7 linked regions of the Homo sapiens genome follow. The protein of the gene in region 5 purifies or fractionates together with the protein of the main gene of each other region. This does not show direct contact. Each region holds a gene or a part of one and is shown on either strand. Other genes may lie near its edges.

Evidence for each region.
Region 1: the proteins of SLC19A2 (region 5) and LMBR1L purify together in Homo sapiens (affinity purification with mass spectrometry; 2 studies listed by BioGRID and IntAct, with this or other methods). This does not show direct contact.
Region 2: the proteins of SLC19A2 (region 5) and SCAMP1 purify together in Homo sapiens (affinity purification with mass spectrometry; one large-scale study listed by BioGRID and IntAct). This does not show direct contact.
Region 3: the proteins of SLC19A2 (region 5) and OSTC purify together in Homo sapiens (affinity purification with mass spectrometry; one large-scale study listed by BioGRID and IntAct). This does not show direct contact.
Region 4: the proteins of SLC19A2 (region 5) and AGPAT4 purify together in Homo sapiens (affinity purification with mass spectrometry; one large-scale study listed by BioGRID and IntAct). This does not show direct contact.
Region 6: the proteins of SLC19A2 (region 5) and TM9SF4 purify together in Homo sapiens (affinity purification with mass spectrometry; one large-scale study listed by BioGRID and IntAct). This does not show direct contact.
Region 7: the proteins of SLC19A2 (region 5) and TMEM41A purify together in Homo sapiens (affinity purification with mass spectrometry; one large-scale study listed by BioGRID and IntAct). This does not show direct contact.

The regions. Positions count from the first base shown.
Region 1 is NC_000012.12:49,100,310-49,104,501, forward strand, and holds part of LMBR1L (protein LMBR1L), read right to left. Parts: coding exon 4,139-4,192; exon of another isoform or gene 3,505-4,138; coding exon 3,378-3,504; intron 2,851-3,377; coding exon 2,782-2,850; intron 2,643-2,781; coding exon 2,578-2,642; intron 2,232-2,577; coding exon 2,159-2,231; intron 2,068-2,158; coding exon 1,984-2,067; intron 1,888-1,983; coding exon 1,811-1,887; intron 1,241-1,810; coding exon 1,163-1,240; exon of another isoform or gene 1,142-1,162; intron 1,015-1,141; coding exon 941-1,014; coding exon of another isoform or gene 860-940; exon of another isoform or gene 701-859; intron 338-700; coding exon 247-337; intron 146-246; coding exon 79-145; intron 1-78. UniProt on the Homo sapiens protein: Plays an essential role in lymphocyte development by negatively regulating the canonical Wnt signaling pathway.
Region 2 is NC_000005.10:78,419,483-78,423,674, forward strand, and holds part of SCAMP1 (secretory carrier-associated membrane protein 1), read left to right. Parts: intron 1-2,318; coding exon 2,319-2,478; intron 2,479-4,192. UniProt on the Homo sapiens protein: Functions in post-Golgi recycling pathways. Acts as a recycling carrier to the cell surface.
Region 3 is NC_000004.12:108,653,440-108,657,631, forward strand, and holds part of OSTC (oligosaccharyltransferase complex subunit OSTC), read left to right. Parts: intron 1-2,124; coding exon 2,125-2,218; intron 2,219-4,010; coding exon 4,011-4,192. UniProt on the Homo sapiens protein: Subunit of STT3A-containing oligosaccharyl transferase (OST-A) complex that catalyzes the initial transfer of a defined glycan (Glc(3)Man(9)GlcNAc(2) in eukaryotes) from the lipid carrier dolichol-pyrophosphate to an asparagine residue within an Asn-X-Ser/Thr consensus motif in nascent polypeptide chains, the first step in protein N-glycosylation.
Region 4 is NC_000006.12:161,263,832-161,268,023, forward strand, and holds part of AGPAT4 (1-acyl-sn-glycerol-3-phosphate acyltransferase delta), read right to left. Parts: intron 1-4,192. UniProt on the Homo sapiens protein: Converts 1-acyl-sn-glycerol-3-phosphate (lysophosphatidic acid or LPA) into 1,2-diacyl-sn-glycerol-3-phosphate (phosphatidic acid or PA) by incorporating an acyl moiety at the sn-2 position of the glycerol backbone.
Region 5 is NC_000001.11:169,475,451-169,479,642, reverse strand, and holds part of SLC19A2 (thiamine transporter 1), read left to right. Parts: intron 1-1,885; coding exon 1,886-2,488; intron 2,489-4,192. UniProt on the Homo sapiens protein: High-affinity transporter for the intake of thiamine. Mediates H(+)-dependent pyridoxine transport.
Region 6 is NC_000020.11:32,161,238-32,164,950, forward strand, and holds part of TM9SF4 (transmembrane 9 superfamily member 4 isoform 1 precursor), read left to right. Parts: intron 1-38; coding exon 39-128; intron 129-3,713. UniProt on the Homo sapiens protein: Associates with proteins harboring glycine-rich transmembrane domains and ensures their efficient localization to the cell surface.
Region 7 is NC_000003.12:185,492,099-185,496,257, reverse strand, and holds part of TMEM41A (transmembrane protein 41A precursor), read left to right. Parts: intron 1-942; coding exon 943-1,104; intron 1,105-1,496; coding exon 1,497-1,635; intron 1,636-4,159.

The sequences.
Region 1 (4,192 bases), on a different chromosome or scaffold from region 5:
TGTATATAAAGTGCCTGCTTTGCATCAGTAAGTACTCAAAAAAATCCAATTCCTTTATCTCCTCCTTTCAATACTTACCCAGGGTTCGAGAGAAGACAGGAAGTGCTGAGCTTAGGACCAGGAGACAGACACAGTTCCCAATTATCTGGGTGGAAGCAGGGAAAGGAGAGGTGAGGGTGGAAGAGCTGCAGGCACCTAGTGCCCATCCACACCCCCCGGGAGCTTCCCTTACTCCCTCCCAGCTACCTGCGTCATGGCAGTGTCGTGCCATCTGGGCCGCAGGCTCCGGAAGAGTGGAGAGCTATAGAAGCCCACAACTGAGGACACCATTAGGTAACTGCCACTGCATTAAGGAAGAACTGGCTGGCTCCAAGAATTAATAACTCATCTCAAAGGGAACAGAGCTCTCTCCCAGCCCACTTCTTTTTTTTTTTTTGAGACAGGGTCTCACTTTGTCACCCAGGCTGGAGTGCAGTGGTGCGATTTCAGCTCACTGCAACCTTGACCTTCTGGGCTTAAGCGATCTTCCCACGTCAGCCTCCCACGTAGCTGGGAATGCAAGCACGCACCACCACGTCTGGCTAATTTTTTGTACTTTTTGTAGAGGCCGGGTTTCACCATGTTGCTCAGGCTGGTCTTGAAATCCTAAACTCAAGCAATCTACCCGCCTCAGCCTCCCAAAGTGCTAGGATTACAGGTGTGAGCCACTGCACCTGGCCTCTTTTTATTTTCTTCTGATCAGATTCTACTGAACCACCAGCCCTCCTTTCAAATTAAGTCTTTTCCTTCTTTCTGAACCTGAGGTTGATGAAAACTTGCCCCACTTCCCATCAGCGTTGCTCAGAGTCCCAAAGGAGACAAAGTCCAAGAAGTGCTCGGTCTAGAGTCCCAGGAGACAGGTTTGCTGAACAGAGGCAATGATGGGTTTCCAGAAGGATACAAGATGAGTACAACCTGAATGACGGCACCAAAGGAGCCCAGCTTGGAGAAGGAGACCTGGCCTAAGGAGGTACCCTGAGGAGTGGGGCAGTATCACTGTGAGCATTCCCCACCATCAGCACTACCCGGCACCCAGCCTTCCCACTGTCCTCAGCTTCTGCCTCCTCTCCCCAGCTGTTCTTAGGCCCTCCCCAAAGGATATGGTGGGAGGGCAGCCTGGTACCTGCATGCCTCGGGGCATGGCAGCCTCATCGATGAGCAGCTCCAGGATGTGGATGGCCACAATGAGCACAGACAGGCCCTGTGTGAGGCAAGGTCAGACTCCCATTCCACCCCAGACCACAGCTGGACCCAGAGCTAAAGGAATGGGCAGACTCTGGTCCAACATTTTCAGTTTCCAAGACTAGCTCTGCTTCCAATGAGCTATATGGGACCTCATCAAGGCTGCTATTAGCAACAGAGTGCCTTTGAGGATATTATAAGATACATCTCCTCTAGATGGAAGGATTGCAAAAAGGCTGAATAGGAAAAGGCATCTCTCTTCCTTCAACTGATGAGATCTATAACTGAGTCCATAGGGGAATCGACTGAATTTCAATGTTTATTATTTTAATGCCAGGGCAAACCTGCACAACTCCTCACTGGCCCTGTGTCTTTGGGCAAGTCACTCAACTCTGTCTCTTCGTCTACAAAATGGGGATTGATGTGCTCAACATTTGTGCTCACCACAGGCAGGACATAAAAGTAGGCACTCAGTGAGAAGCAACCACTATTACTGATGATAACCAGGTCCCTGCATTGCCTCCCCTCTCCCTGAGAAGGCCTCAAGTACTGAGGGTCCACTCCTCACCTCTAGGGCTGGTATACCTACCGTCAGCACCAGCAAGCACAGCATAGCCAGGGGGTAGCCCAGGTTCCGTTGCCAGGCTGAAGCCTTCCGCCTCTTCTCTGTGCAGGGATGGGAGGCTGTCAGCAAGCACCTGGAACCAGGGGCTACTCTCCTTGGGGAAACCCAGGTATCCCAAGCCCTACGAAGCCACATACCCAGCAGGACCCTCTGTGTCTGCAGAGCCAGGACCTGTCTGTGTAGCAGCTCCATGTCTAAAGGCAGCCAGCAGGAAGTAGGATCTGAGGGCAGAGAAGATGGTGTTGCTCTCAAGTCCTGCAGTTTCTGCCCAGGCCAAGCCTACCACCCCAGCAGGGAAGAACTGCAACTTACTACAGATCCTGCGGGTCAGGGCTGCCTCCTCAAAGGCTGAGCAGTACAGCTGCTCCTCCAGGTCTTCCAGCAGCTAGGGGCAGGGGAAAGGAAGAGACTAACTGTCAGAGGCTCCCTGACCCAAAGGCCCCAGGAGAACCCTGTTCTTCCCAGGGCTCCGTAGTCCCAGGCTTCCCCCAGACCCTCATTCACCACCCTGTGGCCCGCAGCTTTGCTCAGTCCCTCCCAATTGCCCTGTATTCTGCCCTGCATGTCTAGTGACCAGCTCTGCATGATAGGGGTACAGAATACAGGAACCAACAAAGGCTGTAGCTCTCTGCAAGTTGTGTACTACACAACCATAGGGTTGTTTCATTGTTTGGTTCCAGCTCTGCAGGAAGCTCACCCTGCAGGATCAAAGAGCAAGGAATACCACATACCCGGGGCTTGACTAGCAGCTTCCCAGTGACGGAGAACATGCGGGCGAGACCCAGTGGAGTACACACTGTAGGGACAAGAGCCAGTCACTTGCCAGACCCTGCTCTCCACCCCTTCCCTAACATGCCCCCCATTCCCTTTCCTTCTAGCCTGGTTACTCTGGTCCAAGGACCCTGCCCATTCCCTCCCAGACCCTGTACACTCACCCAGGAGCAGCAGAACCCCAAGGAAGGAGATGCATGAGTAGAGGTAGGGGAGATAGTACTCCCAAAAGTCTAAGGATAAAAAAAAGAGGCATGTCAGCTCATCTCTCCTTACTTACTGTCCCCAGGCTGACAGGCCTCAGAGTCTAGACAAGGGCACAGTCCCCACAGGGGTTAGGCAATTAATACAAATGAAGAAAGCTGGCCAGCATTAGCAGAATAGGGAGTGGCAGGGCCTATAGTAAACTGGAGATCCTAACCCCTAACTAAAGGGTACAACTGCTATTTGGCCCCCATCACCAGGGACTAATGTAGCCAGATCTTCTCCTTGTCAAACAAAGTTAGATATCTGGATATTAATGTGAAACCTCCCAATTTAAAATGTTAGCAACTGAATAATATATATTTTTAAAACCATTGCATGGGCCCAATGAAACATTTCTGCAGATTGCATTTGGCCAGATGTCTATCAGTTTGAAACTTCAGTCTAAGGGAGAAGGTGCCAACATTTTCCACTTTAGAAGGTTACAGTCATTCCAGGCAGGGGGACATGGGCCAACTGAAAAGCCATGCAGCCTGGAGGAAGCTGGGCCGCTCACCATAGAGTGACTCTCTGTTGGCCTTGTTCTTGTCCACAATGGCTGATGCCACCCACACCATACCTAGCACCAGCAGAGTGAGGAGCATCAACATCACCACTGTCTCATAGACCCGGCCCAGGACACCCTACGGGAGGAGGCAACCAGTGAAGAAGGTTAACATCAGGGCAGTGTGGGAACATTGGAGATGGCAGGCAGCCTGCAGGAACCAGAAAGGTTTGGATTCAGGAGGTAAGAGAGAGGGTTTTCCTCTTATTCTGCTAAGTTGCTCTGTCTTCCCACTCCCCAGTCTAAGGTCACCCCACATACCAGGTGTTCTTCATTTGCATCTCCTTTCCCCAGACCTATTCCTTGTCATTGTGTGCTCTGGGAGGCTGACCTCCGAGGTCTGCATCCCACAAGCTCTTTGCCCTCTGGTTTCGCATCCAACAGGAGAATGGAAGGTAGAAAAAAGGTGAGGGTATGTTTCCTGTGAGTCCTCCCACGTCTGCCACCATGGTTTTGGCAGTGATTATGACACTAAGACAACAGCTCCTCTCTGGGCAGCTTCACATCCCTGGCTTCAGCTATTAGTGGGTTCTAGAAACCATTTCCTCCCTTTGTCCCTACAGGCCTAAGGGTGGTAATGACTTCCTACTGTCACTAGAGCCTCAAACTTCCGTTAACTAAACCTCTGCAAATAGCCTCTTTATTAAAATCTCTTCAGCTGAACCATGTGTGTGGAATTCCGTTTCCTGCCTGGATACATATCCCCTACTTACCTTTCTGGAGCCAGCAAAGCCCTCAGACTCAGTGAAGAAATATGCAAAGGGCAT
Region 2 (4,192 bases), on a different chromosome or scaffold from region 5:
TGAGTATAATAACTCATGGAATACTGAAACAAAATGTCAAGCCGTTAACAGTTTTACTCTGTGTGCACAGACCTCCCACTTACTCTCTGTTTCATTTTTATTCCAAACAGTAGTCTCAGCCTCATTTTGATACCCTGTCAGAAGGGGAGGTAGCTATTGAGGGTTCTCACATGCACAACATCTGGGTTAATGGATAATTTGTAGGGTACATTCTTGATGGAGGAAATTTACTTGTTTTTACTTTATGATTAATGAGACTACCACCCTTCCCTTAATGGATGAGATAATTTTCCTTAAAATCTTTTAGGAGCATTCTTCATGTATGTCAAGTTGTTTTGGAATGTGAGAAGTGTTTCCTAATGGATAGTCTATTTTTAACTCTTCATTAGTATTTTTCGAGATATTCTTGATCTAATATCTTTTGCTGAATCCTCAGTGTCAGTAGTATATATTTTTAATATTAAATGTCTGATTCCATATATGTACATGCTAACCAACTCTTATTTAATCAATATAATATATGCATTTATATTTTATATATGTTTATTTTTTTAAATGGGCAGAAATTGTCCTAGCATTTTATTTTATTTTGAGACAGAGTCTTGCTTTGTTGCCTAGGCTGGAGTGCAATGGCACGATCTTGGTTCACTGCAACCTCCGCTTCCCGGGTTCAAGTGATTCTCGTGCCTCAGCCTCCTGAGTAGCTGGGACTACAGGCACATGCCATCACGCCTGGCTAATTTTTGTATTTTCATCTATACTTGGAATAATTTTCATGAACTTTAAAGTGTAATTATACATATATTTTATCTTTCTTTCAGTGGATTAGGAAATAACCTAATTTGAAAATTGAAATTTAAGTTAGAATGTTCTTAAGGTCTAAAACTTTTTAAGGCAGCTGGATGCTATTTAATGCTGCAGAGTAATAATTTTCTATTTCACAATCTTCAATTCTGTTTTTAAGATCTTAACACAACCACCCTTATTTTGAGGCCAAGGGTTTTGAGTAAATTTATTATGAGCAAGCATTCCTGAGAGTTAAAAATCCTAATGGGACTAGAGTAATGAGTGAGAGTGTCTCTTTTGTGATAGAATTGAATGGGATTTTAAAGTGGGAAAAGCTCCTGCATTTCTATGGCTGAAAAATTGAAGCTTACAGAGGTTGAGTGATTGGCTTAATATTAGATGACTACAACCTAAGTGACTTCATCTGGAGCTCTTTTTAAAAAAAAACAAAAAACAAAACTCTAGAGCTTGTTTACTTATCTGGTGGGTTAGGTAAGAGCAAATTTAGGCATCCCAGAATGTGTGTGTGTATCCTGTTTCATTAATTATTAACTTATTTGATTTGTAAAGAAATCTTAAAGTTTGAGATTTAAAAAACTAGATCCAATAGGTTTTCCCAGTTGTTAATTTTAATTCAAGTAATTTGTTGGCATATTTTTATTGATTTGATAATTTACATTAAACATCATTTTAGCTTATATAAGAATGTACTTACTATAATAAATTCAGCCTGTGAATAAATTTTTAAAAAATCCTTTGAAACAGTTATTAATTACAATGGGTCAAAGTAGTTCTTTAGGATCATGGTATAGTTAGATGTTACTCAGATTTTTTGTTTTTGGTCTGTCAGGGAAAGCAATTATTAACAGCATATGATGAATTTGTCAACATCTATTTGTGTTAACCAAAAGAAAAGCCTGCCACAGTAGCTAAAATGTATCATGTTGTGTGGGGGAGTGAGGAGGGGACTTAATAAATTTAATCCTCTACCAAAACGCAAGTTTTTTTCAGGATTTTACAAATGGACAGCTCTATGAAGTTGAATGAACAATCCTTATACATTGACTATATAGTCACTAGAAATTGCTACTGTATTAGTATTTTTAGTCCAGTGTTTAGTCTGCAGCCCCATTCTGTAAAGATATGGTTTTTCCTCCTAAGTCCTGGGTCTTTTCCTGGCAGACACTGCTTTTCTTCTTGGGCTTCAGATCAAGAGACATCACGTTTCCTTTTCGGGAAGAAGCCCTTAAGGTAGTGCGCCTCTGGTTTAGCTACATCATTGCCTGTGAGGAGGAGAGGGCCAACAGAATTTTTGCCAAACAGTACATGTATTAAGACTCGCTTTCCTGTGTATACTCTGTTTTCAAATCAAATATGTAAGATACAACAGTGTTTTGAAAAATATAAATGGAAACATGGAGTAGAATACATTTGCTCTTAGGAAGTATTTTTTTATTTACAATTTTTTGTTGGATGAATTCATAAATTGAATGTAAATCTTTCTTTTTCTATTTTGTTTTCTGATTCCACAGTCCATGCAGTAACACTGTTTCTAAATATCTTCGGATGCTTGGCTTGGTTTTGTGTTGATTCTGCAAGAGCGGTTGATTTTGGATTGAGTATCCTGTGGTTCTTGCTTTTTACTCCTTGTTCATTTGTCTGTTGGTACAGACCACTTTATGGAGCTTTCAGGTAAAATGTGTGTACTTTAAAATACACTCTTTAAAACCTGTGAAGTAAATAATTCGTAGTATACATTAAAGGGAAAATTGATGCATTTTCATTAAAAAATTCTTGTATTGTTGTGTAACATACCTTCAGGAAAGTTCAATATAGCATGCCTGTGTATTCATTGGATTTTGTAAGTCATAAAATTCCATTTTTTTCTCCCATTTGATAAAAGACCAAACATGAAAATTGATGGAAAAATAAGAACAGTCTTAGAAGTTAATATTTATAAAATATTCTCTTCCATATGTTATACTTCAAGGAAAATTTTGCTGTTTGCCCACCCCACCTCCCAAATCAAAATCCCAATTGGTGCTTATGGTTTTTTTTTTTTTAAATTAACCTAAGTAAGGTAAATATACATGCAATATTTAAAATGAGCCATTTGCACCTAGCAACTTGGATTATTTTCTTTATAAATCCATTTTAGGTTTTTTCAAAGGCAGCACCATTTTAAAAACGATTTATGCTACTAGGTTAAGTATAATGCTTTACATAGTATATTTTAATCAGTGGTTAGGGTTAACATTTCCTTAGCGCATGTTCTGTGGGATATTAATAGGTGCTGGGGGAGAAAAAAAGAGCTCATAAGCTTAGTAAATTTGGGAACAGCTGGATAATAAGGTTAAGCAAGTTTCTTCATTTCAGGATTTCTTACACTCTTTAAGTACCTAGTATGATTTGTGCCTTATGACTTGACCATGCAACCATTATTTTTCTGTGGAGTACTTTGTTGGACTATTGCTTTAAGAAGTATTGGGAAATACTGATTGAAATGATAGTCCTATATGGGTTCATATATTTAATAGTTTTTTTAAACTCATTTTTATTTGAGTAAATTCTTGTGAATAACCATTTCAACTCTCGTGAATAAGGGGTAACATTACTAGGATATATGCGTGTGTTGTTTAAAGGATATATTAGGGAAATTAGAGGCCCACATTTAAGTGTTCAGTATGTTTTGCCATTGCAACCTAAAATCTCTTTAGTTAACCAGAATGTGTAACACACGCGCGCGCGCACACACACACACACACACACACACACACACACACAGAGTTAGAAACCCAGATCTGTAAACAGATGAGGGAAAAACAGAAGAGAACAGGAGATGGGAGAACATTAGGGAATTTGGAGAGAAAATGTATCAGACAATGAAGAAGTAAATTATTACTTAGAAATGGCATAAAGAGAAGAAATGATGAGAGGAGGAGTGAAGGGAAGAAATGATGGGAGAAGGGAAAGGAGAAAAGAACCTTTGGATACATTGAAATATGGGAGATTGGTTGCCAAGGAACGGGGAGAGCTTCTCCTGTAGAGATGGGTTGGAGAGGAATGAAAGGAACATAGTTACTCCTTGCATGATCTGAGTTATTGCTGTTATTTTCTTCGTTATCTAAGCATGGCTCACAAGGCTTTTTCTGTTTTTTGTTAGTTTGTTTTGTTTTGTTTTTTTTGGACATCTAACCTCTGCCTAATGACCTCCATCACATTACCAATATGTTATCGATCTGTGATGATGCTGGCTGGTGGGAGTGAGGATATCTTTATGAAACTTTTCAAAAAAGTGACCTGAGACTAGGGAATTTGGATTTTAAACCTTCTGTTACTTATGTAGCCAAAATAAATGACTAAAAGCCAGCTTTGTGCCTTTTATTTCCTGAAGTCACTTGGTATC
Region 3 (4,192 bases), on a different chromosome or scaffold from region 5:
AATTAGGTGGCCTTTGTAGTTGACTTAGACTATACAAGGTTTATGGTAGTGGAGATTAGGATAATATAATGAAAGATATGTTGGAAGTAGATTCAGTAGGTCTTGAATTCACTGGGTGTAGGGGAAGAATGAAGTGGGAAGGAATCTTACAGGTTTCTGGTTTGAGCTCCTGAATAGATGGAAGTATCATTTCCTGAGATTGAGAAAACAAAGTTTTTGGTGGAAAATGGTGCACCAGAGGTTGTTTTGGGGTAAAATTAGTTGGATATGTCACATGTGCAGATGGGAGTCTAGACCTGAGAAAAGAGGCCTGTGTTGAAGTTGGTCAACTAACAGACATTTCTGGAACTCCCATGAGACATTGAAGAGTATAGGCAAAGTCCAAAGTCTCTGTTCTTGAGGAGCTTACATGTAATTCTAATGGTACTGGCATTATTTGAGAGGCCTTGGCACATCACATTGAGAGTCTTTAGCACATGAAATTGAAAGCCCTGGGAGTTCATTTTGGAGAAAAGTAGAAGAGGACAGTGGACCAATCCCTGAGGGCCTCCAACATTTAGTTCTTTTATAAAAGAAGAGGCCCAATAGAGAGGTAGCAAGAAAACATGAAGAGGAGTATCACAAAAGCCATAAGAAGAGGTGTTTTTCAAGAAATTGGTTTAGTAAACTGGATTGAGTGCTTCTGAGAAGTCCCCTAAGATGAGAACTGAAAAGTGTCTATTGAATTTGACAACATGGAGATCATTGGTGACCTTAGAAAGAGCAGTATCAATGGTTGCAGAAGCCAGATTGGATTGAGTTGAAGAATGAAGGGTAAGTAAGAAAGGGGAGATGGCAAGTTTGCCTAAGTCTTCCAGAAGAAAGTCTGACTCCCTTTCAGAAAGCAAAGATAGAAATAGGATGTTAGCTAAGAGGATCTGAAGTCAAGGAGGGTTGATGTAGGGAAGGAGAGCTTGAAAATACAGGAGAGAGGAGAGATATCCAAAGGAATAAAGTCCCTGAGAGTCCAAGTGGGAATGGACTCCTGGTAATTGCAAAAGGGATCCCACATTATAGGAGGTGGGAATCTTCCTCTTTGTAGCTGGAAAGAAGGAGGTGAGGATGGATGCAGGTACCAGGTATTTGTAGATTTGGTGGGGAAAAGACAAGGGAATTCCTATAGGATTGTTTTGTCAGGCTAGGATAAGGGAGATAGGCTTGTTATGCTTAAGAAAAGCTGGAGATGAAGATGTTTGAGAACAGTGGAGAAGGTAGAGTAGATGTTGACAGTGGGAGATTGAGAAAACTATTAGTGCTGATGAACATTAATGTTAATGATCACGATGACATTATGACATAATGGTGGACATTAATGTTAATGATTATGAATCTCTAGTATTGCCATTCTGCCTGATGGCGTGGTTTTAAAATGTCTCCTTGTTTTACATTTAAGCAATTTCTCTAGTTATTTTTCAATTTATAGAAACAAATCTAAGCATATCTGAGACAATTTTTGTGAACCGAAGTAGAGCCTTTAGTTTTAAATCCCCTTTATACTAAAGTCATTCCTGAGTATTAGCAACTCTTATTGGATGAATTTCCTTTATGAAATTTGTACTTCATTTAGATATCATACAGTTTTCAAAGTAATTCTAAAACATTGAGTTGAATGTCTGAATGATTTATCAGAACTTTAGATGAGTTGGGCCACATTTGGTTATAATAATACAATCAAAGCATTCCTATTTAAAAGTAAATGAAACTTGGCCGGGTGCAGTGGCTCACACCTGTAATCCCAGCACTTTGGGAGACTGAGGCAGGTGGATCACCTGAGGTCAGGAGTTCGAGACCAGCCTGACCAATATGGTGAAATCCCGTCTCTACTAAAAATACAAAAATTAGCTGGGCATGGTGGTGGGCGCCTGTAGTCCCAGCTACTTGGGAGGCTGAGGCAGGAGAATTGCTTCAACTTGGGTGGCGGAGTTTGGCAGTAAGCCAAGTGGCGCCACTGCACTCTCAACCTGGGCGACAGAGTGAGACTCTGTCTCAAAAAAAGTAAATGAACCTTAAGAGACAATGAAAACTATAATCCTGTTTTCAAAAATTAGTAATACAATCTAATCTGTTCTGTTGTCTTTCTTATAGGAATAATTTATGATGTTATTGTTGAACCTCCAAGTGTCGGTTCTATGACTGATGAACATGGGCATCAGAGGCCAGTAGCTTTCTTGGCCTACAGGTAAAAGATACCTTTTTGAATGATTTGGTGGTGGGAAAGAAGGTTGCTGTGGTATGCCCACTTATTTAAAAATAGAGTAAAACCTATGGGATCCATGTGTATTTAGACAACAGCTGTTTTAAAATGCTGGATTCTGAAATGGCAGAAAGTGAGTCAAAAACAAGAGTATATTATTTATTTATTAAGAAATAAAGTATTTCATAATGATGTATCACCAATTTACAGTAGGGTGTCAGTTTAAACTACATTTATAGATTGTTCTGGGGGTCAGTGAACTATAGCTGCTTTTTTTTTCTTTTCCCCAAAAAAGTTTTATTGGAAGTAAGTATGCCCATGTGTTTTATATGATCTATGGCTGCTTTTAAGCTAGAGTGGCTGAGCTGAATAAGTATGACACAAACCATATACCCCACAAGCCTAAGATATTTACTATATGGGTATTTAAGAAAATATTTTTGGACTATACCCTGGTCTATACCATTAAATAACAAAAGTATTTTTGAGACTTTGAGGGTTCTGTTTCATCAGTGAAACCCCGTTCCAGTGTGGTTTTGTTCACCTGAACAATGCTTATATTGCTTTCTAAAATTTACTTAATATCTACCAAAACATAGCTATATGTTTATATTTGCAGTAATGCTATTTATGCATAGAATATTTCTGGAAAGATTTATTAGTATTCTCTGTGGAGGGGAGTTAATGACAGGTTGATGGTAGGGTGGCTCTTCATAGTGCCCTCTTTCACACTGTTTGAATTTTGAACTTGGTACATATATTGTGTTTTCAATGAAAACAATTGACCAAAAAAAAAAAAAAATACCCTGTTTACATATGCCTATGTATAATCATCCCTTTAACGAGAAATTTTCTTCTTGAGGTCCTTGAACTATGAGAATTTGATAAAAGCTCTGTATCCCTAGAAAAATCACACACACACACACTTTTACATATAATTAGAGGGGTTTGTAGTTCACTGAAGTTCTTATGGGACCCATGGAGCCTTATTTAAGAACAGTTTCTTTTTAAAATATTTCCATTTGAAACAAGAAGTTTATTATTATTAACATAAAACTTCAAGAAACACATCTAACCAATTCAAAATTAGTTTGAATTGATAGTAGAAATTTAAATAGCATAACTTTTTAAAAAAAGCTAACCTAGACCGGGCGCAGTGGCTCACGCCTGTAATCCCAGCACTTTGGGAGGCCGAGATGGGCGGATCACGAGGTCAGGAGATTGGGACTATCCTGGCTAACCCGGTGAAACCCTGTCTCCCCTAAAAATACAAAAAATTAGCCAGGCGTGGTGGCACGCGCCTGTAGTCCCAGCGATCTGGGAGGTGGAGGTTGCAGTGAGCCGAGATCGTGCCACAGCACTCCAGCCTGGGCGACAGCAAGACTCAATCTCAAAAAAAAAAAAAAGCTAAGCTAAAGTTCTGGGTAAAGCGTTCGTATACATAAAATATGAGTATTTATTTTACATAAACAGTTGTGTTAGTTGAGGTTTTACGACATTTTTTGAATGTGAACTCCATGAAGACAAAGATTTTTGTCTGTTTTATTCATTGTTGTATATCCCCCAGAACCTAAAACAGTGCTTGCTACCTAATAGACTCAATAAATATCTGTTGAATGGACAGATGAATATCCAGAGGTATAGTAAAATAGTTGTAAGGCTAAGAATAAGAAATATAGCACAAAAATGTTTTGGCACAAAAACGGAAATAGGAATTTCAATTTAAGGGAAACATTTCTATTTGTTATCTTTCTATGGTCATTCTTTTCTTTTCCAGAGTAAATGGACAATATATTATGGAAGGACTTGCATCCAGCTTCCTATTTACAATGGGAGGTTTAGGTTTCATAATCCTGGACCGATCGAATGCACCAAATATCCCAAAACTCAATAGATTCCTTCTTCTGTTCATTGGATTCGTCTGTGTCCTATTGAGTTTTTTCATGGCTAGAGTATTCA
Region 4 (4,192 bases), on a different chromosome or scaffold from region 5:
ACCCTAAAAGAAAATTCAGGAAAATTTCAGGAAAGGCAAGAATATGAAATGCAAGTCCATGTAATTCTGTTACAATATTTAGTAAAATCACAGTGTGCTCAGGCATTGCTAGCTCTGTGGCTTTGGGAGGGTTAGTTAACCTCTCTGTGCCTCAGTTTCAAATTAGATTAGAGAAAATAATTGGCAACCCACAGGGCTGGGGGCAAGCTGAAATGAGGTGTTATACAAAGCAGACAGCTTCTAGTAAGTGCTGCGTAACACATGTTGATTACAAAGTACATAAATGATCACCTTATAAGGTGTAATATGATAAGTGACCATTTGGGAAGAATATGATTGGAAAGTGACCTTCTTTCTCCCTATATTTACTATCTCAGGGCGTCAAAGACACCCTCCATACAACAAGTTACCAAACCCTCCTGGCTTTCAGACCTGTGCCTCTTCTGGGCCTCCCCTCCCAGAGCTGCAGGATGCTCAGCCTCTCTCTGCTTCCTGCCACGCCAGCCCACCTCATTCCTCTGTGGTCTAGGAAAACTCCAGCCTCCTGCCCTGTCCCACCTCACCCACTGGCCCACTCCTCTGGTCTCTGGCACTCCGTGAGAAGCGTGCACACTGGGACCAATACTCCCCACTTCCAGACCTAACGTGGGGGCTGTTCTTCTCTAGGAAGTATTTTAGGAAGCCCAGACTGGGCAGGGGTGGTGAGGTGGTCCCCCTGGCGTGCCCGCGCATCCCTGCCCTGCAAGTCTTATCCACTGCGTGGGAACCCCTCGCTGAGGCTTCCGTCTTGCCCTCTGGGCAGCAGGCTCCTCAAAGGCACTTGCAGGGTCGGCTCCCTCTTTGTATTCCTGCGGGCTGAATGCACGGGCTCCCTAAGAAACGCTGAAAGGGGATTCTGGAGTTGGGTGGGGAGTTGGAATAACTGACCCCACTTCTGTTGACCTTTGAGAGCCTGAAAGCGAGAAGGGAGAAGCGAGATGGGAAGATAAAAGGGAGGGACACAGCAGTTATGGAACCCCTAGGGTCACCCAGGACTAGTTATGGGACCCCTAGAGTCCCCCAGGGCTGGGGAGCTGAAGCCTAACTTCAGGCAGGGCAGGGTGCTGGTCCTGGGAAGGAAGTAAAGGTGGCCCCTCCTGTAAGTGAGAAGCACCAGGGACGGAAAGGGAAAGAAAGGCTTGAAATACCAGCAACTGTGGGGATGGATGCTAGGAGGCAAATTAATACTAGTGAGACCTGGTTGGTGGACTAGTACCCACTGCTGGACTGGGTGGTGGATTAGTACCCACTGCTGGACTGGGTGCTGGATTAGTACCCACCGCTGGACTGGGTGCTGATTAGTACCCACCGCTGGACTGGGTGCTGGATTAGTACCCACCGCTGGACTGGGTGCTGATTAGTACCCACCGCTGGACTGGGTGCTGGATTAGTACCCACCGCTGGACTGGGTGCTGATTAGTACCCACCGCTGGACTGGGTGCTGGATTAGTACCCACCGCTGGACTGGGTGCTGATTAGTACCCACCGCTGGACTGGGTGCTGACTAGTACCCACCGCTGGACTGGGTGCTGGATTAGTACCCACCGCTGGACTGGGTGCTGACTAGTACCCACCGCTGGACTGGGTGCTGGATTAGTACCCACCGCTGGACTGGGTGCTGATTAGTACCCACTGCTGGACTGGGTGCTGGATTAGTACCCACTGCTGGACTGCAGGGGCGCAGCACTCACTGTGAAGGTCAAGGAAACAGTAATGAAATCCCCAGGTGGGAGCAGGTTTGTGAGTGCCTCTCTCAATTTGTTCTTGAGATATGTTAATCTGTTCACTCCAGAGAGGTTTGGAAAAGGAGGCTCCCTTAGCTGGTGGGTGGGGAGGGGAACGAGGAGGGCCTGTCTGCACAGATCTGGGTGTGGAAGGGGTCCTATCAGGCCACCGAGCCTGGCCCATTTCCTCACTGCACCGGGCTGCCTTGGTGCCAGCATGACCCCCACGCAGACTTATCAGGGCAGAAAGCACTAAATATTTGAATACTTTACGGCCACGTGTCTACTTTTAAGTTGGTTTACTATTATTTTTCAATTCCCATGTAAAGTATTTCTTCATTTAAATTAATGAATTGCCACTTTGGTTAGGACCCTATTAGTCCTCAGAAATGGGTTTGCTTTGATCGGACCAACCGGATTCCTGAGTGTACCTGACAGAGCCGGGAATTCCCCCTCAAGCAGTGGTTCTCAGCTGTGGGCAAGTTTGTCCCTCTAGGGGATTTTTGGCTGTCACAAGTAGGAGTGGGGTGACTACTCCTGGCATGTAACAGTTAGAGGCCAGGAATGTGGCTGAGCATCCGATTCTGCACAGGTTGGCCTCTTCCACAATAAAGGATTAATGGGCCCAAAATCTCAACATCGAGATTGAGAAACACCTCGCCCTCAAGGAATGTCACCCTTGAGGCCCTGGCCAGGAGGCCAGCGATGAGGCAACCCTGATGACCTGACTTCTTGTGCCCATCTCTTCTCTAGGCCACAACACATATTCAGTGCTGGGTACTCTGCTCTATGCTACAAACGATGCGATCATACCTCCATGCCATGAATGAGCACCCAGTGCAGTTATGAAGAGAGGACTGTAATCATTGTCATGGCATGTAATTATGCATCTAGAAAGAGTGACTGTTTTATGAAGGGTGAATGGGGTGATGGGAGAGCGTCAGGAAAGCAGAGGCTGGAGGCAGATGCTAGAAATGGACTCACAGGCATAGAAATGGTTCCTATGCAGGCTACCCACACAAAAGGCCGAAGAATCTGCTCACCATCCGCCTTGCAACCTGCCCTTCCCCCAGCAGAAAAGAGACAAGAAAAGAAATGAGCCTGATGACTTACTCCTGGGACGCAGGACACAGTCTGAGATGATTGCATTGATTGTCTGCTGATGGCTGCAGTATCCTGGGAAGAAGATGTGCTTGCATAGACAGATAGTTCTTTAAAATTTCATCCGCCTCGGTTAACCTCTACCCACAGAAGACTGACAGCTCACGAGGAGCCCATGGAGATGGGCAAGAGACCAAATTTCACTCCAGGATCAATTCAAGTCTCCCATTCTCATTTCAGAGTTGATCTAAGATAAGCACTGGCAGGGTCTTTGCAGATAATAATCTGCCTTTAAACCCCGTGGTGGATTTGTGGAAAGTCCACTGAAGAACAGAAAGCCTCTGACTCCATCCACCCACCGCCTTGGGAACTCTGAGAGCAGCCACCACAGGTGTCCTTGAGAGCAGCTGCTCAGTCAAGTTCAATCCTGGGTTACACATTGGTTTTGAGAAGAGTTCATCTTTAATTTAATGTATGTACTGCATTGTCACTCAGATGGTTTTAATCACAAGGCCCTTTCCCTTCTCCCACCATCTCTGGCTAAACCATAATAAAAACAACACTCCCTGAAAACTATAGTAGCTTGTCTTATAAAGTACTGCTGTTAGTTTTTCTCCAAATTCTAAAATACTACCCTTTCTTGCAGTAATTTTGCTGTTCTTAACAACTGGGATGAAAGGCATGCAGAGGTCTACACGGTAGAGATTTGTTCATTATTTGAAAAATATTAGCTGGGGAACGGGCGCAGTGGCTCACATCTGTAATCCTAGCACTTTGGGAGGCCACACTGGGCAGATTGCTTGAAGTCAGGAGTTCGAGACCAGCCTGGCCAACATGGGGAAACCCTGTCTCTACTAAAAATACACACGCAAAAAAATTAGCCAGGTGTGGTGGCGCACCCCTATAGTCCCAGCTACTCAGGAGGCTGAGGCAGGAGAATCGCTTGAACCCAGGAGGCAGAGGTTGCAGTGAGCCAAGACTGCGCCATTGCACTCCAGCCTGGGCAACAAGAACAAAACTCTGTCTCAAAAAAAAAAAGAAAAGAAAAATATTAGCTGGGCATGTTAGTACACACCTGTAGTCCCAGCTACTTGGGAAGCTGAAGCGGGAGGATTGCTTGAGCCCAGGAATTCAAGGCCAGCTTGAGCAACAAAGTGAGACTGGCCTCTTAAAAGAAAGACCAGTCTCACTTTTAACATTTTAAACAAAACTAAAAAATAAATTTACCACATATCTGTTATGTGCCAGGCTCTGCACTGGGCATGGGAGACAGACTGTGGAATATGCCATGGCAAGGTGTGAAGGTACAGGGGAAAGCAGAGCCCAGA
Region 5 (4,192 bases):
TTAATTCATACTGCCCCAGATGTCCTTGTCAGCTTGTCCTCTAGTCTTCAGACTTTGTGAATAAATCAGGTGGAGTAAGTAATTTACATGTTGTGTCTCATTTACTTTTTGCAACAAACAACCGCCCTTTACTGATAATGGAGATTAAGGCTAAGGGGAACTAAAAGAATGTTGTCTACAATCACACAGCAAGTGATGGAACTGAAATTCCTGTTGGGGTCTTTCTGGTTTAAAGTTTATTTTAAAGATCATTTCTACTATATCCCAATTTTAAAATATGCATTAGAAAGAAAACAGCAAAAACTTCTTTTTTCTATTTAAAAACAAGCAAAAAGAAGGACATAAAAGTTGCCTATATTCCTGCCATCTAGAGAGACTTAATTCTGTCAAGACTGTAGGACACATTGACCATCTTTATTTGTTCCTCTGCCCCAAAAGAAACAAAACTTAAAGTCAGAGAAGCTTAATGAAACAGTAGGATAAAGGCTCCCTATCTTGTGTCTAGAAGTAAGAATTGACAGTGATTCCGTTTTCAAAGCATTTATTGAATAGTATCTTCCAAACAGTATGCTGGCTTTTAGACAGGTTATACAGGTGAATGTAGGGGTCTATCCTTAAAAAGCCTATAAGGCAGTTGTTCTCAACTCTGGCTCATTTAAAACTCTATTGGGAAGTTTTTAGAAAATATCTGTGGCTGGGCATTTTTTTTTTTTAAAGAGACAGAGTCTTGCTCTGTCATACAGACTGGAGTGTAGTGGTGTGATCATAAGTCACTGCAGCCCCAAACTCCTGGGCTCAAGCAATTCTCCCACCTCAGCCTCCTGAGTAGCAGCCATAGGCATGTGCCACAACGCTTGGCTAACACATTTTTTTAAAGCTTCTTAGGAGATGCAGCCATGGTGAAGAGCCAGTATTATGAATTAATTGGGGAAACTGATGCATATAGATCAGTATTAGGAGAGTTTGAGGCTAGGCCAGATGGCTCACATGTCTGTAATCCCAGCAGTTTGGGAGGCTGAGGCTGGTGGATTGCTTTGAGCCCAGGAGTTTGAGACCAGCCTGGGTAACGTGGTGAAACCCTATCTCTACCAAAAAAAAAAAAAAAAAAAAAAAAAAAAATTAGCTGGTTGTGGTAGTACAGGCCTGTAGTCCCAGCTACTGGGGAGGCTGAGGTGGAAGGATCACCTGAGCCTCACCTGAGGCGGAGGTTGCAGTGAACCATGATTCTGCCACTGCATTCCAGCCTAGGTGACAGAGGGAGACCCTGTCTCAAAAAAACAAAAAACAAAACCAAAAAAAAAAAAAGGGTTTGAATGTTGTAATACAAGTACTTTTGGCTTCCGCAAAGTCTTTCTGAATAAGGAAGTCTTTGAACTAGGCCTTGATTAATGGGAAGAATTTATTAGGAAAAAGATGATGGTATTGGGGATAGGAAAGGATATTTCAGGCTGGGCGAGGTGGCTCACCCTTGTAATCCTAGCGCTTTGGGAGGCTCCTCATTTGAGGTCAGGAGTTTGAGACCAGCCTGGCCAACATGGTGAAACCCCACCTCTACTAAAAATACAAAAATTAGCCAGGCGTGATGGTGGGTCCCTGTAATCTCAGCTATTCGGGAGGCTGAGGCAGGAGAATCACTTGAACCTGGGAGGCAGAGGTTGCAGTGAGCCAAGATCGTACCACTGCACTCCAGCCTGGGCGCAGAACAAGACTCCATCTCAAACAAAAAAGAGAGAAAAGACATTTTCAAAGTTATCTGAACTGCTGTTGTCAAGGTTGAGATCTTTGAGGTATTTGTAGGTTGTTTTTTATGAATAAATTCTTTATGAGTATTCCAGGTCCTTTCATCACTAATGTTTTTTGTTTTTTTTTTTTCTCTTTCTACCAGGTCTTCAATGAAATTTATCCAGTATGGACTTACTCTTACCTGGTGCTACTGTTTCCTGTGTTCCTTGCCACAGACTACCTCCGTTATAAACCTGTTGTTCTACTGCAGGGGCTCAGCCTTATTGTTACATGGTTTATGCTGCTCTATGCCCAGGGACTGCTGGCCATTCAATTTCTAGAATTTTTTTATGGCATCGCCACAGCCACTGAAATTGCCTATTACTCTTATATCTACAGTGTGGTGGACCTGGGCATGTACCAGAAAGTCACAAGTTACTGTCGAAGTGCCACTTTGGTGGGCTTTACAGTGGGCTCTGTCCTAGGGCAAATCCTTGTCTCAGTGGCAGGCTGGTCGCTGTTCAGCCTGAATGTCATCTCTCTTACCTGTGTTTCAGTGGCTTTTGCTGTGGCCTGGTTTTTACCTATGCCACAGAAGAGCCTCTTCTTTCACCACATTCCTTCTACCTGCCAGAGAGTGAATGGCATCAAGGTACAAAATGGTGGCATTGTTACTGACACCCCAGCTTCTAACCACCTTCCTGGCTGGGAGGACATTGAGTCAAAAATCCCTCTAAATATGGAGGAGCCTCCCGTGGAGGAACCGGTAAGCTCAGCCTTAAATATCTTGTAATTGCTACTATGGGGGCTGGACCCGTGGTGAAAAAAACAGCAAACTCCCTCTTGGTAGATCTTGTATTTATTTGGATTCATGTTTTATCCTGAGTTGGTTTATTGCTTTATTCATTCATTCATTCATTCATTCAAGCTATGGTTTATTTATATTAGGGATGACACATTTATTTTTTCCTGGAGTGCGTGACCTCCAAAGTCAGACTGATACAGCATTATATTGTTCATGTCAGAGATGCCTTGGATTGCAAGGGCTGTGTCTTCATCTTTTGAGTGTTTGGCATATAAATAAAGCACTCAGAAAATTGTTGCTAAATGAGTAGATGAAATGATTCTAATAAATGATTAAGTATCTACTTCTAGTTTCTGAATTGAAGCCCAAATTATTATTATTATTATTATTATTTTTGAGACAGAGTCTTGCTCTATTGCTGAGGCTGGAGAACAGTGGTGCGATCTCGATTCACTGCAACCTCCGCCTCCAGAGTTCAAGCAGTTCTCCTGCCCCAGCCTCTCCCTAGTAGCTGGGATTATGGGCGCTCGCCACCACGCCCAGCTAATTTTTGTATTTTAGTAGAGACGGGGTTTCATCATGTGGGCCAGGCTGGTCTCGAACTCCTGACCTCAAGCAGTCCACCAGCCTCAGCCTCCCAAAGTGCTGGGATTACAGGCGTGAGCCACCGCACCCAGTCATGAAGCCCACAGTATTTAAGGGTAAGAAGTTAATTTCCTCTTCTGTGCTAGAAGGGATATCTGTTATTTATTTTTCAAATGACAATTTGCTGAAGTGAAGTAGTAATGAATAATACAGACGAAGAGATCACAAGAGGACAGTTTGAGGTGGTGATGGAATAAATAGTAAAAGTGTGTTATGAAGCTGTCTCTTGGAAGAGAGAGGTATGGCATTAAAATAATTTATCCATCTGTTCTGTCTAGCCAGGAAGATGAATTCCTTTCCCTAGACACCCACCCTTTTTTTTTTTTAAATATTCAAGTGTTTTTTTTGTTTCTATTAGGTTATAAGCTGTGAGGAACAAAGTTAATTCCAGCCACACTGTAGTCTTAGTTTTCCTGGGACATGTTTGGAAATAAGCCTATTAACATTCCAGCTTTGTAGGTGGCCTCAGTCGGACTGAGCTCCATAAGCTTTGTAGGCTGGCTGATAATAAAGAACCATTATGAGTAAAGTCTTTCATTCTCTACTGAGAGTTAACTGAATTGTTTAAATGTGGCATCTAATGTCCTCATTGAAAATTACTCTCTTTTCTCTATCCCCGTTCTTCAGCTCTCAAATTACTACTTGAAATTTAGGTTATCATCCCAGAGAGCCTGGGTAGACTTGTAGAGCCTGGGCAACCCTCATCATGAAACTCACCTTGATTACCAGGGCACCTGTGAGCACTTTTTGTCAGAATGACCAAGGATTAAGTGGCAATGAAATGCTGATTTTTTTCATAGTTTGTTAGGTGATATTAGAGAGTCAACAGAGGGTTGATGGGGGAGGGAAGGAGGTGTGTAATCATTTCATAGATTTTATGAAGTGGAAAAAAAATAAAGACACTTCTTTATCTGTTTTGAATGTGTTACAGTGGCTTTAGCTAAAATTAACGTATATACAGATAATATGTGTATAAATATATATTTTAGATATTAACATATTGACCATAGTTCTAAAGAT
Region 6 (3,713 bases), on a different chromosome or scaffold from region 5:
CCCAGGACAACACTGACCTTCCTCTGTTTCCTCCTCAGGATTACCGCTGGTGGTGGAGAAATTTCCTAGTCTCCGGGGGCTCTGCATTCTACGTCCTGGTTTATGCCATCTTTTATTTCGTTAACAAGGTACTGCCCTCCTTGAGGAGGTCCTCTTAGTCCTCATAGGGTAGGAAGGTCAGGAGGAGGATGCTGGGAGAAAAACCCAAGTGCCTGAATCTTCCTTTTCCACCCAGAATGGGGAGGACCAAAGCCACCTAGAACTGTTCCTGCTCTAGAAGATGGATCTTTTTAGGAAAGAAAGAATCTGTATTCTGTATGTTTGGGAGACAAAGGCCATCAGGATACGTGACAATGTGAATAATGCTTGTAAAACTTACGAGGTATAGCCATAGCCAAAGCAGGACTTGAAAGCAATATGTCACCTGCAGTGCTCTTCACAGGAAATAAGAGGGACTAATAACACCTTGAGAAAAAGGAAAAGATAAGAGTAACATGAAAGAAGAAAAGTAGAAAGGAGTTAATAAAGATAAAAGCACAAAATGCTGAAATAGTCTAAATAGTAGAACCCAAATTTAGGGCTGCAGGTATCCTGTCTCTGCAGGTGTTCTCTTCTTCACGCAAGTACTGTTCAATCCTGCAGAGTAAGGAGAGGATGGGAAAGTTTTTCACAGGCACCTCGGAGCCCTCCTAACTCTGTGACCCCACATAGGTAAAGTGTGGCCCAATAATAAGAGGGAGCCAGGCTTACCTGACTAGGGCAACTCACAGAGCTCATTGTCCCGAGAGAGAGACGTGGGCAAGAATACAGATGTCCCCACGACAGTTTTACTAGATTCATTCATGATACACAAACCAGATGAGCCATTGAGAGGAATTTGGAGGAGCCCTGTTGGGCCCCTCACCTCCAAAACTAATACTCAAGACTTACTCTGACCTGCTGTACTTTGGGTCTCCAGAGCCCAGAAGCAAGCAGTCCTCTGTGGCAGTCAGGCGTATTTGCAAAATAGAGTTGTAGGTCAGTTGATCGAAGCTGGGAATGCCGTTTCCCAAAAACAGTCAAGTTGGAAAAGACTGGAAGGATCATTTAGTGTAGTGCTGTACCCCTACCTCCAGTCTGGTGACTGTGCCCCTCTTCTCTAACAGTCTCAACAGATGATTCTCTAGCTCAGGGGTCAGCAAACTGCAGCCCGCGTGGGCCAGCAGGCCTGTTTCTATAAATTTTTATTGGAACACAGCCATGGTCATTCATTAACATATCTGTCCATGGCTGCTTTCACACTACAATGGCAGAGTTGAGTAGTTGCGACAGGGACCATATGGCCTGCAGAAACTAAAATATTTACAATCTGGCCCTCTAAGTAAAAGATTGCAGACCCCTGCTCTACTACATCCAGCAACAGAGAAGACACTCCCTCCTAACATTCCCATTCTTTCTGGACAGCTCCTGTCATTATCAAGGTCTTGATTCACACTGCAGTCTCCCTTGCTGTGACTTCCATCTTTAGACCTTAGTCTTAATTCTGGGATCATCTAGAACAAATCTAATCTCCCTCCTCTATAGCCCATATTAATCATAACTCTCATAAGTGGCAAGTGACTAAAACTCTATCAAAGTAGCTTAAGCAAAAAAAAAGGGAAAAAAAGTAGCTTAAGCAAAAAGAATGTATTTGCTTATATAACTGGAAAGACTAAGAAATTGGAGTTCTAGCCTCAACCATGCTTAGATCCAGAGTCTCAAAAATATCAGGGCTCAATCCCAGCACTTCGGGAGGCCGAGGAGGGTGGATCACAGGGTCAAGAGATCGAGTCCATCCTGGCCAACATGGTGAAACCCTGTCTCTACTGAGATACAAAAAATTAGCCGGGCGTGGTGGTGCACGTCTGTAGTCCCAGCTACTCAGGAGGCTGAGGCAAGGGAATCGCTTGAACCCTGGAGGCAGAGGTTGCAGTGAGCCAAGATCGTGCCACTGCACTCTAGCCTGGGTGACAGAGCAAGACTCCATCTCAAAAAAAAAAAAAAAAAAAAAAAATATATATATATATATATATATATATATGTATGTATGTATGTATGTACACATACATACCAGGGCTCTGTGCCCACGCCTTAGCCCTGTGTATCTTTTTTTGGCCTCAGTCTGCAGGCAAGATCTTTTCACAAAGTAGAAAGATGGCCAGTGGCAGCCCTAGAGTCTACTCTTTCCAGCTTTGCAGCCCTAGAGCTAAAAGACTGTCTTTCGTCTACCATGATACGTCAGCCAGTGAAGACACGCTGCTCTGCTCGGGTGACATGCCCAGTGCTCACTGTTTTCCAGGTCCAATAGCATCACATATTCAGACAGACTGGCTTAGGTCTTGTGCTAGGAATTTTTTTTTTTTTTTTTTTTTTTGAGATGGAGACTCGCTCTGTTGCCCAGGCTGGAGTGCAGTGGTGCGATCTTGGCTCGCTGCAGCCTCTGCCTCCCGGGTTCCAGCGATTCTCCTGCCTCTGCCTCCTGAGTAGCTGGGGTTACAGGTGCACACCACCACGCCCGGCTAATTTTGTGTTTTTAGCAGAGACAGGGTTTCTCCATGTTGGCCAGGCTGGTCTTGAACTCCTGACCTCATGTGATCCGTCTGCCTCAGCCTCCCAAAGTGCTGGGATTACAGGCGTGAGCCACCGCACCTGGCCTATTTTGTGCTAGGATTGATGGCCCCAACAGGACCAGGTGTTTTGAGTGTTCCTCAAAACATCTGGAATATGGAAGACAAGGAACACGGTTAAACAAAACTAGAGATCACATCACAGCCTCTTGTCCTTCCTCCCTTCTGCTCCAGTCTTCTTGCTCTGCTCAAAAAATCTCTTCCTCCAGCCCCAATGCCTTATGTATAAAATGAGGAACTTTCTGGCTCTGCCTCTTTGCCTCGTCCCTTGCCTCCTTTTACCACGGTTCTGCTCCTTGTCCCTCCCCCACCCCTCCCCCGACCACCAGCCACAAGAATGCATATAACAAGAGATGGAGGCTGGGTGCATATGGTTCACACCTATAATCCTAGCGTTTTCAGAGGTGGGAGGATAACTTAAGTCCAAGTGTCTGAGACCAGCCTGGGCAATAGAGCAAGACACCATTGCTAGAAAAAATATTAGCTGGGTGTGGTGGCACACACCTATAGTCTGAGCTACTTGGGAGGCTGAGGCAGGAGGATCCCTTGAGCCCAGGAGGGTGAGGCTGTAGTGAGCTGTGATCATGCCACTGTGCTCTAGTCTGGGTAATAGAGGGAGACCCTGTCCCTTTAAAGAAAAGGGGTTAGGGGAGAGATGCGGGGCTGAGCCTGAAAACATGGCCTTCACCCCTTAGGCTTAGGAGAGGGCTTCAAATGGTGACCTATTTTGTTTTCTTTGTTTCTTTACTGTTTTCTTCTGGGCTACTGGCATTCTGTGACCATGTGTCTGCCTGTGAGTCCTGGGACAGGCCCTACTCAGGCCCTGGGCATATCTTGATACCAAGGTTCCACATTAGTTCCCTTTGTAAATAACACAGATCCCCAGCATCTCTGCCCAGCCTCTAAACTCTACCCCAGTTAAAAAGGAGTCCAAAATGCTCCAAGATCAAAATCTCTGTGAGATGCTAACAAAAGTGACAAGCATTCTGGGGAAGAGAGGAATGAATGGAGGCTGAGGCGGGCTGATGGGGCTCCTGGTCCTGAAGCTGGGCATCCTGGACACCCCTC
Region 7 (4,159 bases), on a different chromosome or scaffold from region 5:
TAACACAGTGCTTAGCGGCTCCCCAGCTTCCCACTTCCAAGGCTTCCTTTTACTTTCTCTCTTGGATCCCATGTTTTGTCAGGATGATGTCTACCAACCAAAATGCATTTAGGAAGTATTGGTTCACTTTTCCCTTTTTCTTAAACCAAGACATCTTCAAATGTCTGCTAGAGCTCTGGTCAACATGGAACCCCGGTATTAACATACTGCATAGATGTAATTCCAGCAAAAAGCAAAGAAACAAGACATCTTACATAGCTTGTGTGGTCTTACCAAGGGAAAATTCATGGTTTGTGTTCATCTTTTGAAATAGTAAAAATAACTCGTGAGTTTCATTTCTACTTTCTTGGAGCCCCAGTCATTGCAGAATCTACCACAGCCACAGATCCCATTTCATTCTCTCCTGCCCCCTGAGGCTTTTATCCTTATCCTCATTTTCAAGGTGAAGAGACTGACGGCAGGTGTAGTTCCCAGCCTTTTCATAATTTTTCATTCACCTCTTTAAATGGCAATTGGGACCTGGGGCAGTGGCTCACGCCTGTAATCCTAGCACTTTGGGAGGCTGAGGTGGGAGGATCACTTGAGTCCGGGAGTTTGAAACCAGCCTGGGCAACACAGTGAGACCCCATCTCCACAAAAAATTTTAAAAAGTGGGTGAATGTGGTGGTGTGTGCCTACAGTCCTAGCTGCTTGGGAGGCTGAGGCAGGAGGATCGCTTGAGTCCAGGAGTTCGAGGATGCAGTGAGCTATGATCATGTCACTGTACTCCAGCCTGGGTGACAGAGCGAGATCCTGTTTCTTAAAAATAAATAAATAACGCAATTGGGTTTTAGCTGGAAAAAAGCAGTGAAGGAGGAGGGAACCTATGACTCTCAGGCTCCAAGATGACGTGCCTGGTAGCTGCCAGATGTTCACATGCCTGAGGGTTTGTTTTATTTGCAGAATGTTTTAGCTGGTGCCTTGTTTGGGCCATGGCTGGGGCTTCTGCTGTGCTGTGTGTTGACCTCGGTGGGTGCCACATGCTGCTACCTGCTCTCCAGTATTTTTGGCAAACAGTTGGTGGTGTCCTACTTTCCTGATAAAGTGGCCCTGCTGCAGAGAAAGGTAAGGGGAGGGGTCACATCTGAGAGCTGGGACCCCAGACAGTCGCTACGTGCATGGCCTTGAGAGAAGCGAGTGGCAGGGATTTCCCACAGTACTCTTCCACGCTGTTTCAGGAGGTCCTAGGGGTTCTTTTGATGTCTTCAGGAGACATAGACCTGGGATCAAATCCCAGCTCCATCATTACCAGCTCTGTGACTTTGGGCAAGTTCTTGACTTCTCTGATCCTCAGCATGTCTATTTTAAAATGAGGAAAACAGTCTTTCCCTGGAGGGTTGTTGGAAGAATTGGGAACAGATTATGTAAAGTGTCTAGAACAGTGCCTGGCACCAGCAGGTTTTCAACACCTGGAGACCCTTTCTGCTTCTTAACAGCTTTCTTCTCTTTGGCTACAGGTGGAGGAGAACAGAAACAGCTTGTTTTTTTTCTTATTGTTTTTGAGACTTTTCCCCATGACACCAAACTGGTTCTTGAACCTCTCGGCCCCAATTCTGAACATTCCCATCGTGCAGTTCTTCTTCTCAGTTCTTATCGGTAAGATGCTAGTGGGGTAGGTTTGAGTCTTCAGAGCTGTCACGCTGGGGGTCTGCCCTGGGTTATTGGCCACGTGAGCATGTGCCTGCTTCTGAGAACACAGGCTCACAAAGTGTGACTTCAAGCCTTATGATCTAAAGAAATGATTCCTGATTTCAGATCTGCTCAGGCTTCAACATGAAAACCCATAAAAATACTTTTGGACTAAATAAAGATTGTCCATTGCATGGCTGTATGCACTAGGCACTGGGATTAGAAGAGATGGTCTGTGTAAAGTATACAAATTGGCCCATAGTAAGTACTCAGTAAATGCTAGCAGGAAGAGCAGGGTTGGAATGAGGGTGTGTGTCCATGAGTTTTGAGTGGGGACAGAAGAAAGGAGCAGAGCAAGGGACTTCCTGTCTGGTTTTTGGCCCCTGTTTTGATTAAGTTCTGCCTTAGGAATTGCTGGCATCAGTGTGGTTCCTTCCTGCCTTTTGACAATTGCACAACCTGCAGCAAGCTACTTACCCTCAATGGACCACCTGGCTAGGAATAGAGCAGTGTTTCTCAAAGTGTGGGCTTTGGGCCACCTTCATCAGATTGTTAGGGTCAGGGGGCTTGTTGAGAATCTAGATTTGGGGCCTACTCCAGACCTACTGAATCAGAATCTTGGGAGTGGAATCTGGGAATATGCATTTTAATCCAGTTCCTAGTCAGTCATTTTCAAACTGCAAACCCAGTCATTCTCAAACTGCAAACCTATTAAGAATCGCCTGCAAACCTATTAAAAATCACTTGGAGGCCGGGCTGAGTGGCTCACACCTGTAATCCCAGCACTTTGGGAGGTTGAGGCGGGTGGATCACTTGAGGTTGGGAGTTCAAGACCAGCCTGGCCAACATGGTGAAACCCCATCTCTACTAAAAATACAAAAATTAGCCTGACATGGTGGTGTGCGTCTGTAATTCAACTACTTGGGAGGCTGAGGCAGGAGAATGGCTTGAACCTGGGAGGCGGAGGTTGCAGTAAGCTGAGAGGATGACACTTCACTCCAGCCTGGGTGACAGAGTGAGGCTCCATCTCAAGAAAAAAAGCAAAAAAACAAAAACAAACAAAACAACAAAACATCACCTGTGGAGATTTTAATCCCTAAGCTAAGGCTACACCACACATCAACTAAATCATCTCTGGGGTAGGACTCAGGGATCAGGATCTTTTAACATTTTCCAGGTGATGCAAGTAGTTAGTCCCTAAAAGGGATTCCGCTGGATCCTGAGTTTTGCAGTCTACTGAATTAGACGATATCTAAAGTTTCTCCTTGCCTTTGACAATTATATGACCTGCAGCGAGCTACTTAGTCTGAACGGGCTACTCGTCCAGATAAGGGGCTGGGACTAGAGCAGTGTTTCTTGAAGTATGGGCCTTGGACCACCTTTATCAGAGTGGTAAAGTGCTAACATCCTATAAAATCAGTGTTTGCTACTTTCTCCATACTGGAAGAAAACCACCCTCCTTAAGCCTAAGGCAAGGATCTCTTCTCTTAAACCTCCCTTAGATCCTAGAGGGAAAGACGATTCAGGGCTTCTAGGTCAAACAGAGCAAATCTGTGGTTGAGCAGCTGCTATTCATAGGAGATACCTGAGAGAAATGGAGATCTTAAATAGAAGCAAGATCTACCACGGCCAATTTTGGTCATATTGGCTTTCAGACAAAGTGCCTCAGGCCCTCAGCTAGTGGGGGTTTGCTGCTTCTAATTACCTAGGTGGCATGAGGCTTGGCAAGATTCTGGAGACCAGGCTTCCTGTCCTCTGTCTCACAAGCTGTGTGACCCTGAGGGGTCTGGGATCTTCATCTCCTGTATACTTCCTCTCCTATAGAAGAGAAATGGACTATCAGAGTGTTCCAAACCAATCGGAATCTCAGGGTGGGAGTGGAGAAGGGGCTTTTAAAATACAGGTTCCTGGGCACTACCCCAGAACCAAGTACCCAGAATTTCTGGGGTGGAGCCCAAGGATGTGGTTTTTTAACAATGTCACCAGCTGATTGTTCTGCAGCCAGCCTGTTCAGCCAGCCAGACTTTTGGAATCCAGTGGATTTGATGACATCTTTGAGACAGTACAGAATGTGAATAGTACTTCTTTTAAAAAACTGTTTGTCAACAATGGCACTTCTCTCTTTACTTTGGCTGTTGGGTACTCAGAACCAAATTTGGGGCCCACTTTTGGCAAACAGGTGAACCTTATGCATTTTTTTACTAACTGTACTCCCTGATGTCTTGTATTCTTCTGCACGCATTTTGCTTTTCCTATTTAAAATTTTATTTATTTATTTATTTATTTTTGAGACAGAGTCTAGCTCTATCGCCTGGGCTGAAGTGCAGTGGTAAGATCTTGGCTCACTGCCACCTCTGCCTCCCAGGTTCCAGTGATTCTCCTGCCTCAGCCTCCTGAGTAGCTAGGATTACAGGCACATGCCACCACACCCGGCTAATTTTTGTGTTTTTAGTAGAGACGGGGTTTCACCATGTTGGCCAGGCTGATCTCG